Homo sapiens: one gene and its partners. The protein of the gene in region 1 purifies or fractionates together with the protein of each later gene. This does not show direct contact. Each region holds a gene or a part of one and is shown on either strand. Other genes may lie near its edges.

The links.
Region 2: the proteins of DEFB110 (region 1) and CACNA2D2 purify together in Homo sapiens (affinity purification with mass spectrometry; one large-scale study listed by BioGRID and IntAct). This does not show direct contact.
Region 3: the proteins of DEFB110 (region 1) and LRP11 purify together in Homo sapiens (affinity purification with mass spectrometry; one large-scale study listed by BioGRID and IntAct). This does not show direct contact.

What each region holds. Positions count from the first base shown.
Region 1 is NC_000006.12:50,019,807-50,023,559, forward strand, and holds the start of DEFB110 (beta-defensin 110 isoform a precursor), read right to left. Parts: upstream 2,189-3,753; 5' UTR 2,130-2,188; coding exon 2,075-2,129; intron 1-2,074.
Region 2 is NC_000003.12:50,493,560-50,497,212, reverse strand, and holds part of CACNA2D2 (voltage-dependent calcium channel subunit alpha-2/delta-2 isoform b precursor), read left to right. Parts: intron 1-3,653. UniProt on the Homo sapiens protein: The alpha-2/delta subunit of voltage-dependent calcium channels regulates calcium current density and activation/inactivation kinetics of the calcium channel.
Region 3 is NC_000006.12:149,836,813-149,840,465, reverse strand, and holds part of LRP11 (low-density lipoprotein receptor-related protein 11 isoform 1 precursor), read left to right. Parts: exon of another isoform or gene 1-28; intron 29-3,002; coding exon 3,003-3,128; intron 3,129-3,653.

The DNA of each region.
Region 1 (3,753 bases):
GTGTACTATTAAACCTTTTGACTAGGAATCAATAAACTATTGTCAGGGAGCCAAATCCACCCTGCCACCTATTTTTGGAAGTAATTTTAGTGGCACGCAGACACACCCATTTGCTAACACATTGTCTATAACTGCTTTTGCATTAAAATAATGCAGTTGAGATCATAGGGTTCATAAAACCTACAATATTGGTTGTCTCACTTATTTCTAGAAAAAGTGTGTTAACTCCTACTCTGGCTTTATATTTTCTTATCAATCATGAAAGAATGGGTGAGGGATTTGTAGCTGGGGTCACAAGAAGACATGTCCAGGAGAGCAAAACTGCAACTAAAATTTGCACATTATAAGAAACACAAAATTTGACACAATACAAAAATAACTTTGTAATAGTCAAAGCTGTAAGAAAAGATATGTTTTTTTTTTAGCTTAAAGATGGACTCTCACTAGAAGTTTCTTATTTAGAATTGAATATATTTAGGGGGTTTGAGGACATTGGTTTGATTGGTTATGTGATCTATTCCAAGTCAATTTTTTTAAGTTTATATTTTAAATTGTACCAAGTCAAAATTTTTTTATTTTATATTTTAAATTGTACCCTGGCCGATTCGTTTTCAGAAGTCATTTGTTTTGTAGCCTTTTTTTTTTGTATACACATCAAATTCTTGACCAAAGGACAGATTTAATATTTTCACATATGAAAACAAATAAATTATGCCACTGTTTCCTGCTATTAATTATTGCTTGGTCTTCTCAAAGGCCAGGCCTTTTGGCCTAGGCAGTCTGTCTGCAGTTCCAACAGCTGACACCTGATGGTGAGTAGTAATACCTGTTAGCTAATACATAGACTCAGAGCTACATTATCTATGTCATTGGTATAATGGCTATAAAACCAAGTCCTACTATTAATATTGGCTTTCTTCTCAATGTAACCAAAGCAATTCAGAGTATGAAGCAACTTAAAGAAACAAAAGCATAGAAGAGCATCTAGTTAATCTGCACAATTTAAATATTCACTTCTAAAGATCATTACTTATTCTACATTTTCTGAGGAGTTATTATTATCAAACCCATATGTGATTACCCGTGACAGACACCTGAATTATACTCACTTTTGGCAAAAGTTCTGTCATGTTTGGCACTGTTGTCCATGAATGCACCTTGGACTGACCCCACCCCTTCTCTTATTCATTCTTTGTCTTATTTCACCTTTCTAAAACATTATTGTCTTCTTTCTCCTCATTCTGACCTCTACATGTGTTCTCCAGTTTGTGTCCTTGGATTGCTAATCTCCTTTGCAAGCATTCATCTCCTCATTCAAATAGTATCAATTAAATATACTCCCTGTCAATTGGATGCCAAGCTCAAGGGCATGGTGTCTCACTCTAAGCAATATTGATCTTTTGAATAGGACAATTCTTTGCTCTAAGGGGCTGTTCCATGCATTGTAGGTTATTTAGCAGCATCCTGGGTTCTATCTACAACTGGTACTGTGCCAGTAGTACAAGTTGTGATGAGCTAAAAGGTCTCTAGACGTTGCCTGATGTTCCCTTGAGCACAAATTCACTCCTCTCTGAGAACCACTGGTCTAGTGATACTTCGATATTTCAATAATTATTATTTCTGCCTTCAAATACATTGTTCAAGTCCAATCTGTCTGAAGTCTCTGATCATTACTTTCAACAAAGTAAAATCTCTCTCCATTTCTGTCTCACATCACTTTTTGTTATGATATTATTTTAGATTCACAGAAGAGTTGCAAAGTTGGTGGAAGCCAGCTTCCACTTATGTTATATATTGCATAAACTTGGTAATGTTAATTAAGATTAACGAATTAATGTTGATGTAATAGTATTTACTAAGCTATTCAGATTTTGCCAGTTTTCATACTTGTTATTTTTGTCTGTTTTTCACTATTGTCTTTATTATCTGTTCTGGAGTCCAATCTAAAATACCACATTACATTTTTGTGAAATGATGTTTTAATCCCTATGTTATTATCATATTTTTTATCAAGAAACAACTTATGTCTTCTCAAATTTGTTAGTATAAATCCCCACAAATATTTGCATATTACCTGGTAAAATTGTGACCCAAAAGTGCAGAATAAAGAAAAAAAGTTGAATCTTCATGGTAGAGAGTTTCTTAAAAAAAGGGGGCAACAGACCTCCTTTTTCAAGTCAGTTGTTTTGAAATAAGGAAACAGAGATCCCTTTTATTTGTGGATTCTCCTGGGAAGTACTTTTAACCACTGAGGCTTATCAAGAGCAAGAACATTTGTATGCTTGGTTGAATAGTGCCACCCTCAAAGAACATGAACTCAAAAAGTATTATTAAATTTTTCTCATAAAAGTAAAACCTGCTGTGTAACCTTAACTAGACTTTCATGAAAACAACACAGTTTTTAAGATATTTTATTTATAGGGGATATGTGTTTGGATTGCTAAATGTTATAGTAATCATCTCCTCTATTCTATGTTATATGTAATATTAAGTATTCTAATGCCTTAGTATAAAATTGTTGAATGCCTGAATCATAAGATTTTAGAGAAAAAGTTTCCATTGAGATCAGTTTTGTTTTGCTGATAAAACAATGAGAACCAGGGAGATTAAATAACTTTATTTCAATTAATATAATATGCAATTATTTAAATAATCAGTAAATTCTGGATTCACTAAAAATGTGAGAAATATTCTATATGTCTTTTTTTTTTTTTTTTTTTTTTGAGATGGAGTCTGGCTCTGTCACCCAGGCTGGAGTGCAGTAGCACCATCTCAGCTCACTGCAACCTCTGCCTTCCAGGTTCAGGTGATTCTCCTGCCTCAGTCTCCTGAGTAGCTGGGATTACCGGTGCCTGCCACCACGCCTGACTAATTTTTGTATTTTTAAAAGAGATAGAGTTTCACCATGTTGGTCAGGCTGGTCTCAAACTCCTGACCTCATGATCCACCCGCCTCGGCTTCCCAAAGTGCTGGGATTACAGTCATGAGCCACCATGCCCGGCCAAGTCTTTGTATGATTCATAAATTTTCTATAGTCATCTGATTTCAAAATTTCAGGTTCAATGTTTTAATTCTGTTTATGGAACTGAAAATTTCATATCTGATCTAAATTGCATGCTTGCAAAAACTATTATTTTGGATATGTGAGAAAGAGCTGGAAGTTTTGCCCAGTACTCAGAAGCTGATGCTATAAAGAAAAACAATTGGCCAGGTGTGGTGGCTCACACCTGTAATTCCAGCACTTTGGGAGGCTGAGGCGGGTGGATCACCTGAGGTCAGGAGTTCTAGATCAGACTGGCCAACATGGTGAAACAACCCCGTCTCTACTAAAAATACAAAAATTAGCCGGCCATGGTGGCAGGCACCTGTAATCCCAGCTACTCAGGGGTCCAAGGCAGGAGAATCACTTGAACCTGGGAGGCAGAGGTTGCAATGAGCCAAGATTGTACCATTGCACTCCAGCCTGGGGTAAAAGAGTGAGACTTCCTCTCAAAAAAAAAAAAAAAAAAAAAAAAGAAAGAAAAAGAAATCAATTAATCAATTATTTCCTACCACATAGTTAATTTTTAAGACAGTGGTTCCTAAACTTTAGCTGCATCAGAATCCCTTAGAAAGCTTGCTAAAATCAGATTGCAGTGTCCCACCCCCGGCATTTCTGATTTAGTAGATCTGGAATAGGGACTAAAATTTGCTTTTCTAACAAGATCATTGAATGCTAATGCTGCTGAAAGGGACCACATATTAGTCTAGGAA
Region 2 (3,653 bases), on another chromosome or scaffold:
TCTGGGGTCTTCCTGCTCCTCTCCACGCCCTGCTTTAGCTGTGGCCGCTGGGCCTTGTCTCTTCCAGTGTGAGGGTGCCTGGACCTCCCGTCCTCCTTTGGCCATACCTTGGGTGTCTCATGGCTGCTTTTCAGATTGACCCCCTTTGAGTTCTGATCAGCCTAATTGTTTAGCAGAGGGGGAGGGGCATGGGAAGCCTTTCCTGCTGATCAGTATCCATCTTTCCCACCTTGGAAATGATCCTCATTCAACAAAGGGGAAGAGGTGGGTGAAAAGGCTGAGAAGTCACTCCTTCTGCCTGTCTTTTCCCTGCCCCTCTTAGACCCTGGGCCCCTTTCTTCCCCTTTGATGCCTGCCTTCCCTGATGGCTAGTTCTTTCTGAACAAGCCCCCTCTTCGTGTGCACTGAGACTCTGCCACACCTCTCAACAGCTGTGTGACCTTGGGAACTTCCACAGCCTCTCAGGGTCTTGGAGCCTCATCTGTAAAACAGGGCTTCCGTGGCTGTACTGCCACATAGGGTTGGGGTGTGATAGACTGTGAGGGATGGGCCTGGCCCCAGGGAGTCTGTGATAAGGGCATGTGGATCCCGACTGGATCTAGGGGGTATTTGCAGTCTAGCTGGGCCTGCACTCCAAGTGCCAGCCACTATCCCCTCATCCATAGCACCCAGCACCCATCCAGGCCCTACAGGCACTTGGGACCCACTTGTGGTTTGTGAGTCTTTCCTCTTGTGTTTGGCTCTTGCCTTTGCCTGTGTGCACATGTCAGCTTGTATGTGGGCGTGTCTACACCTGTGTGTTCATGTATGTGTGCATGTGTCAGACGTGTTCACATCTAAGCATGCTTGTGCGTATACCCACTTGTGTGCGTGTGTTTGTACTCACACATGGATGCATGTGTGTAGATGTGTGTGCATGGGCATTCTCGTGTGTAGGCAGCAGTAGGTGTGTGCGTGTATGTGCATATGAAGTCAAATGCGGGCATGTGCTTGGGAGCCTATGTAGTGCAAGCACACGTGTGGTTTATCTCTGCAGCCAGAATGGGCTCCTAGTGCCCACCTTCACCACCTGCCTTTGAGGTTAATGCCAGGGCTCGGCTGGGCAAACACTGGCAGTGGGAAATAAAGCATCCTGATTGTTAGGGCCAGTGTTTTGCAAACTTTTATGTTAGAAACAGCCTGAGTTAAAGCTGAGCTGGAAAGTTTGATCTTCTACCAACTGGCGTGATGACAGTCTGCAAAGGAAACAGAGGCTGCGTCCTTGTAATTCAAATTTTTGCAAATTGAATGGTATTTACATTCAGTGGAGGACTTGGGACTCAGAGGAGCTCCGTGAGTCCTTTGTGAAGTGAAGCATCTTTGCAAACAGCCCTTCCCCGCGTGGAAAATCTGGAGGGTGGGCGTGGAGCCTGGGCTCAGGCAGAGTGGGAAGCTCTTGCTGTGTGACCTTGGGCTGGCACTTTTCCCTTTCAGAGTGGGTGCTTCTCATTTGCACACTGAAGGGCAGGAGACTGGCAGCCCTTGAGTATCTGCTGTGGGTTTGGGTCCTCCCCGCAGCAAGACACTGTGGGCACGATTTGGGCTGTAAAAACTTTGGCTTGATGATCCCTTGATGATCTGGAGGGATGATTCCTCCACATGTTCTCCATCTGGAGCATCTCCAGCGAAGACACTTCCTTCAAGGATGGATTTTTGTCTACTGAGTCTTCATAAATAAGGCTGTCCAGTGATGCCCTGTGATGGGCCCTGGCCCCAGTAGCTGTGTGGACCCAGTTCTCGTGGGTTCTGTTGTCTGAGAGTTTTGCTTTCCTGGCATTTTCAGGACGCGCCTGTGTGTTGTCAGTGCTGCGATGGCCCAGGGCCCTTGGGATTTTGGGAAGTGGCTGTGAGGGGCTCAGGAGCCTACAGGCCAGGAGGGGTTCCTGTGGGGGCAGGGAGCCTGGGTGCAACCGTCTCCTTGGGCATTATGGGCTTTGCATGCGTCCCTGACTTGGAAAGGACATGCCACAGCCACAGAAATCCCTGAGGTCCTGATACCACCATCATATAGACACGGAAACTGAGGCCCAAGATGGGGGAAGGGAACCTTCAAGCCCCACATATCTGTGGCTGCACATACTCTGTGGGCAGGGCCCAGCCCTCATCCCTAATGCTCAGTACAGACTGCGGGGAGGGCGACTCCCTATGCAGCCTTCCTCGCACTGATGTACAGCTGTTTCTCTTAAATAAAAATATCCAGCCGGGTGCAGTGGCTGACGCCTGTACTCCCAGCACTTTAGGAGGCCGAGGTGGGAGGATCACTTGAGCCCAGGAGTTGAAGATCAGCCTGGGCAACATGGCAAAACCCCATCTCTACAAAAAAATACAAAAATTAGCCAGGTGTAGTAGTGTACACCTGTGGTCTCAGCTACTCAGGAGGTTGAGGTGGGAGGATGGCTTGAGCCCAGGAAGTTGAGGCTATAGGGAGCTGTGATGGTGCCATTGGACTCCAGCCTGGACACAGAGTGAGAGCCTGTCATTTATAAATAAATAAATAATAAATAAATAAAATCTATGGCATGGGTCGGGGGGCAAGTTGAGGTCTGCTTTGGCAAACTCGAAGGGCAAGATGTCTATGTGGTGTGAGGCCCCAACTCCTTGGGTTTCTGTGGGGCAAACTCTGATGTCCCTGTGCTGTTTCAGAGACATAAAAGCTTTCTGGGTCCCCTTGGGAAGGACAACTTTGTCACCAGGCAGTGTGGGCTTGGAGGGGCTGGCGTATTCCTGAGATGGTAGAGGCCCATGCTCTGCCTCGAGTTTCCAGCCTGACGTGGCATTTCAGTCTTGATCACTTCCTTCCACAGCCCGTGTTCTCCTCCTGCTGGCCCCGCCTAAAACGCTGCATTTGAAGCCTTAAAGGTCAGGTCTGGTGCTGCCACCAGTTCCAGCAAACAAACAACTAAACAACCCACCCCCGCCCTGCCCCCACTTCAGTTATGAGAAAAGAGAAGGAGCTGGCAGAGCAGGCCTCTGTGCTAAGGGCCCTTGCAAATGGGCATTTCTCCTTTCTCTCTGTGAGCTGAGTCCGTGGTGGGTGTGTTAGGGCCCTGGGAGTCTTTGTATCTCTCCTTGGACCCCCCGCCAGGCTTGCTGGAGTGTCTCCCTTTTGGGCTAGCTGGGACCTTGCACCCCAGAAACCTGCCATGGGCAGAGCCCCACTTCCCTGGCTAGCCCCTGAGGCCTTGCCTGGGCTGACTCCAGCCTCCGGCCCTGGGACTATCTGGGACACTTGAAGGTCCTGGGAAGAGCTCTGGCCTCCGCACCTCTGGCTTTCGCTCACTGCTCACCGTGTCCCTCTCCAGGCTGCTGGCTTCGCCCAGGGCCCTGGGGCAGGAGCCTTCCTGACCAACACCCTCCTCCGGCTCCCTGCCCTTTGTGAGTCCCTCCTCCAGACCCGTGCCCCGCCTCCAGCTCTGTGCCGGGTCATGGGGCCCTTGAGGAGTAGGCATTGAGCTGACTGCGACCCCCTCAAGATCTGAGTCTGAGGAGCGCATTTGGCTGCCAACAAGAGGCTGCTTCTGTGCTTATCATGTGTGGTGGGTTTTCCTCATGGTGGGCCCTTTATCCCCTGACAGGGAGCCAACAGGTGTGTGATGCGGCTGCTGGCAAAGACC
Region 3 (3,653 bases), about 100 Mb from region 1:
AAGATGATAATAAACTGTATTTGAAGTAGCAGAGAGTGGTGTGTGAATCATTTTTGATTACTCAGTGGCCGCTTGAGTATAGGTCTTGTGTGGGTAACTTTATATGGAAAATAAAAAGGAATTGGTGAAGTACTAACTGCTGTCTAGAATCACTTAGTGGTTATATTGGAATAACATGCTATGAATTAAAGTTAATAAAACACCACAGAGAGACATTGGAAAATAGAGGTAGAAGAGACAAGTGTTTCCCTCCCCTGCATTGTATGTATTGGTCTTGCAATGAATGACCCAGATGTTATGGTAACCAAGGGTGACACTAGCTGAGGTAGACAGATGAGCAGGTACCCTGCTTATATGATCATAACTTGGTTCAATTTTTAATAAGTTGACATTTTGAACATTTTTCATGCTTAGAAAAATGATCAAACAGCAAGCCAGCAAGCTCTTCCAACATGATCTAACTCAGCAGTCTCCAAACAGGATGCCCCTGAGTTGTTCAAGACATTTTTAGGGTGAGAAAGAAGACAGCAGAGTTTATATTTTTGCTGATTTTTAATTTTTTTCCTTAAAATTTGAGTATATTTTATAAGATACACCCCATGTTAGTACAGTAGTATGCACGTATTATTTATAAATAAACCGGACTAGCCGGATGTGGTGGGACACGCCTGTAATCCCAGCTACTCAGGAGGCTGAGACATGAGAGTCAGTTGAGCCTGGGAGCTGGAGGCTGCAGTGAGCTGAGATTGTGCCACCGCACTCCAGCCTGGGCGACACAGCGAGACTCCGTCTCAAATAAATAGATAAATAAATAAACTGGAGATGCCTGTTCAACAATATATTATTGATCAGGATGCATGATCAAAAAAGTTTGGAGGCTGCTAATCCAAAAATAGATAGAAAATTTACAAATATGGATCCATCTCCAAAATCACCAAAGAATAAATAAAACCTTGAGATATCTGGGATTTTCATGCCATGAATTTAAGAAACCTGACGAGGAACTGTATCCTGCTTGATATCCAGCGTGTCCCCCACCTCCGCTCCCTGCTTCTTCCCAGTGGCCGGAGCTGACTCTCCTTCAGGCCCATGTTCTCAGTCATAACTGCAGGCTCTTTGCTTCCTCTTCTTCCGCAGGAGCTTCTATCACCATTTATTTTCTTTAACTTCTCTTCCTCCTGGATCAATATATCTTCAAATTGCCTCACACCAAGATAGACTCCTTTTCCAACCTCTTGATTTAACCACGTTTCAATAAAAGATGTGTCCAAGGCCGGGCGCAGTGGCTTACACCTGTAATCTCAGCACTTTGGGAGGCTGAGGCAGGAGGATTGCTTGAGTCCAGTAGTTCAAGACCAGCCTGGGCAACATAGTGACACCCTGTATCTACAAAAAAAAAAAAAACAAAAAAAAACCAAGTGTATGTCCAAGATTTCACTTGGGTTTGTGAACTGTGCTCAGCCATTTGGTTTTGAAGGAATATCATATAATCTGCCACTTCCCCATGTTCCTGAGAGAATTGTCTAGTCCACTCTGTCCCTGTAAAACCGTGGAGCTCCTGTGACCTGCTTCTAGCCTTGTGCCTTAGTCCATGTTGCCAGTACCAGATAGTCACCCGGTTCTCCTCTAGCTAAGTCTAATAAAGTTGGCTTAATCAAGGGAGAGGGAAAATGCATTTCAGGAAAATATTTGTAGCTCCTATGAATTGCACTGCAAATTAAAAGCTCCTAAGAACTCCAGAAGGGAGAAATGTCGTTATTTCTTTCTTTTTTTTTTTTTTTGAGACAGAGTCTCCCTCTGTCGCCCAGGCTGGAGTGCAGTGTCACAATCTTGGCTCACTGCAACCTCTGCCTCCCAGACTCAAGTGATTCTCCTGTCTCAGCCTCCCGAGTACCTGGGACTACAGGTGCATGCCACCAAGCCCGGCTAATTTTTTGTATTTTTAGTAGAGACGGGGTTTCACCGTGTTAGCCAGGATGGTCTCGATCTCCTGACCTTGTGATCCACCCGCCTTAGCTTCCCAAAGTGCTGGGATTACAGGTGTGAGCCACCACGCCTGGCCAATGTCATTATTTCATGAAACTAAATTCATGCCAGCCCATAACTAAATTTTGTTTATTCTCTACAGTACCAGGGACGTTATGATAATCAACAAATAGGATTCAATAGTAAAAACTTAATCTCAGTGAAAAGTATTACTTAGGAGACAAGAATGTAAGACATAGCATATGTAAAATAGTACCTCTGGGCCAGGCACGGTGGCTAACACCTGTAATCCCAGCACTTTGGGAGGCCGAGGCAGGTGGATCAGTTGAGGTCAGGAGTTCGAGACCAGCCTGGCCAACAAGGTGAAATCCCATCTCTACCAAAAAACACAAAAATTAACCGGGTGTGGTGGTGCATGTCTGTAGTCCCAGCTACTCCAGAGGCTGAGGCAAGAGAATCTCTTGAACCCGGGAGGCGGAGGTTGCAGTGAGCCAAGATTGTGCCACTGCACTTCAGCCTGGGCGACAGAGTGAGACCTTGTCTTAAGTAAGTAAATAAATAAATAAATGGTATCTCTGTTAAAACATAGCCAACTGCCATCCAGGGGATGGGATGGTATTAGGTGCCCTCCTGCAGAGCAATCGACAGCCAGAAGAAGAGGTTCCAACAATGGTTTCTATGAATGAATGAATGAAGAGGGAGACAGCTGAGGCGGGGAATCAAGGGTGGAGAGAGACCTGGGCTGTTGCTTCTGTGTGCCACCTCCTGGCAAGGCAAGCATGGAGAACAGCCCTCAGACCAAGAGCCCCTGAGGAGTCTGAAGAATTAAGTCGGGAGGCTCAAAAAGAGCCCTCCAACCTCTCCAGAACCTGTTGCTGGAATTGTTAGGTTTGCCTCATTATTTGCATCTCTTCCCCGAAGTGCATTTTATCATCCCCACGGACTCCCCTTTGTCATCCCCATCTTGAGAGTCTGAACTTCTGCACTCGTGTGACTTGAGATTTGTTTACAAATAGGATGTTTGCACACTTGCTCACGCTACCACTTCTTCTGTGACGATGGCTGCTGCATTGACATCACGCTCGCCTGCGATGGAGTGCAGCAGTGTCCTGATGGGTCTGATGAAGACTTCTGCCAGAATCGTGAGTTGGCTATGTCACATTGCTAGGCAGTGGCTGGAAGGGATGGAGTTGGGAGGTCTGTGTTCTGAGAATGAAATGCAAACACAGTGTCCTTCCCCTGCTTGATTTTAGTTATAACTTTACATGTAAAAGCTATGCCTTAAATGAGAATTCAATATGTCTCTAGTCTAAGTCTCAAATGTCAAATTTTTAGTATTGCTTATGTTTTTAATTTTTTTCAATTTTCCAGGTTCTTTCTATCCTAAAAATGCTGCATGTCATGTGCTTTCTTAAAAACTGCAGTGATTTGATGCTTTGTTTTGATAATTTTTTAAAGAAAATTTGCGATACACCAGGGTGTGGCTAAGTCAGAGCTGTAAATCAGTCTTATAATATCATACACATAGAAACACCCTGTAAGAAAGAAGAAAAACTGAAGAAAATGTAATGAAGTATGGATTTGAGGAAGGACGAAGAGTCTCAAAACCTTAAGTTTACGTTTAGTCTTTGTCCATTTCTTTTTTCTTTTCTTTCTTTTTTTTATGA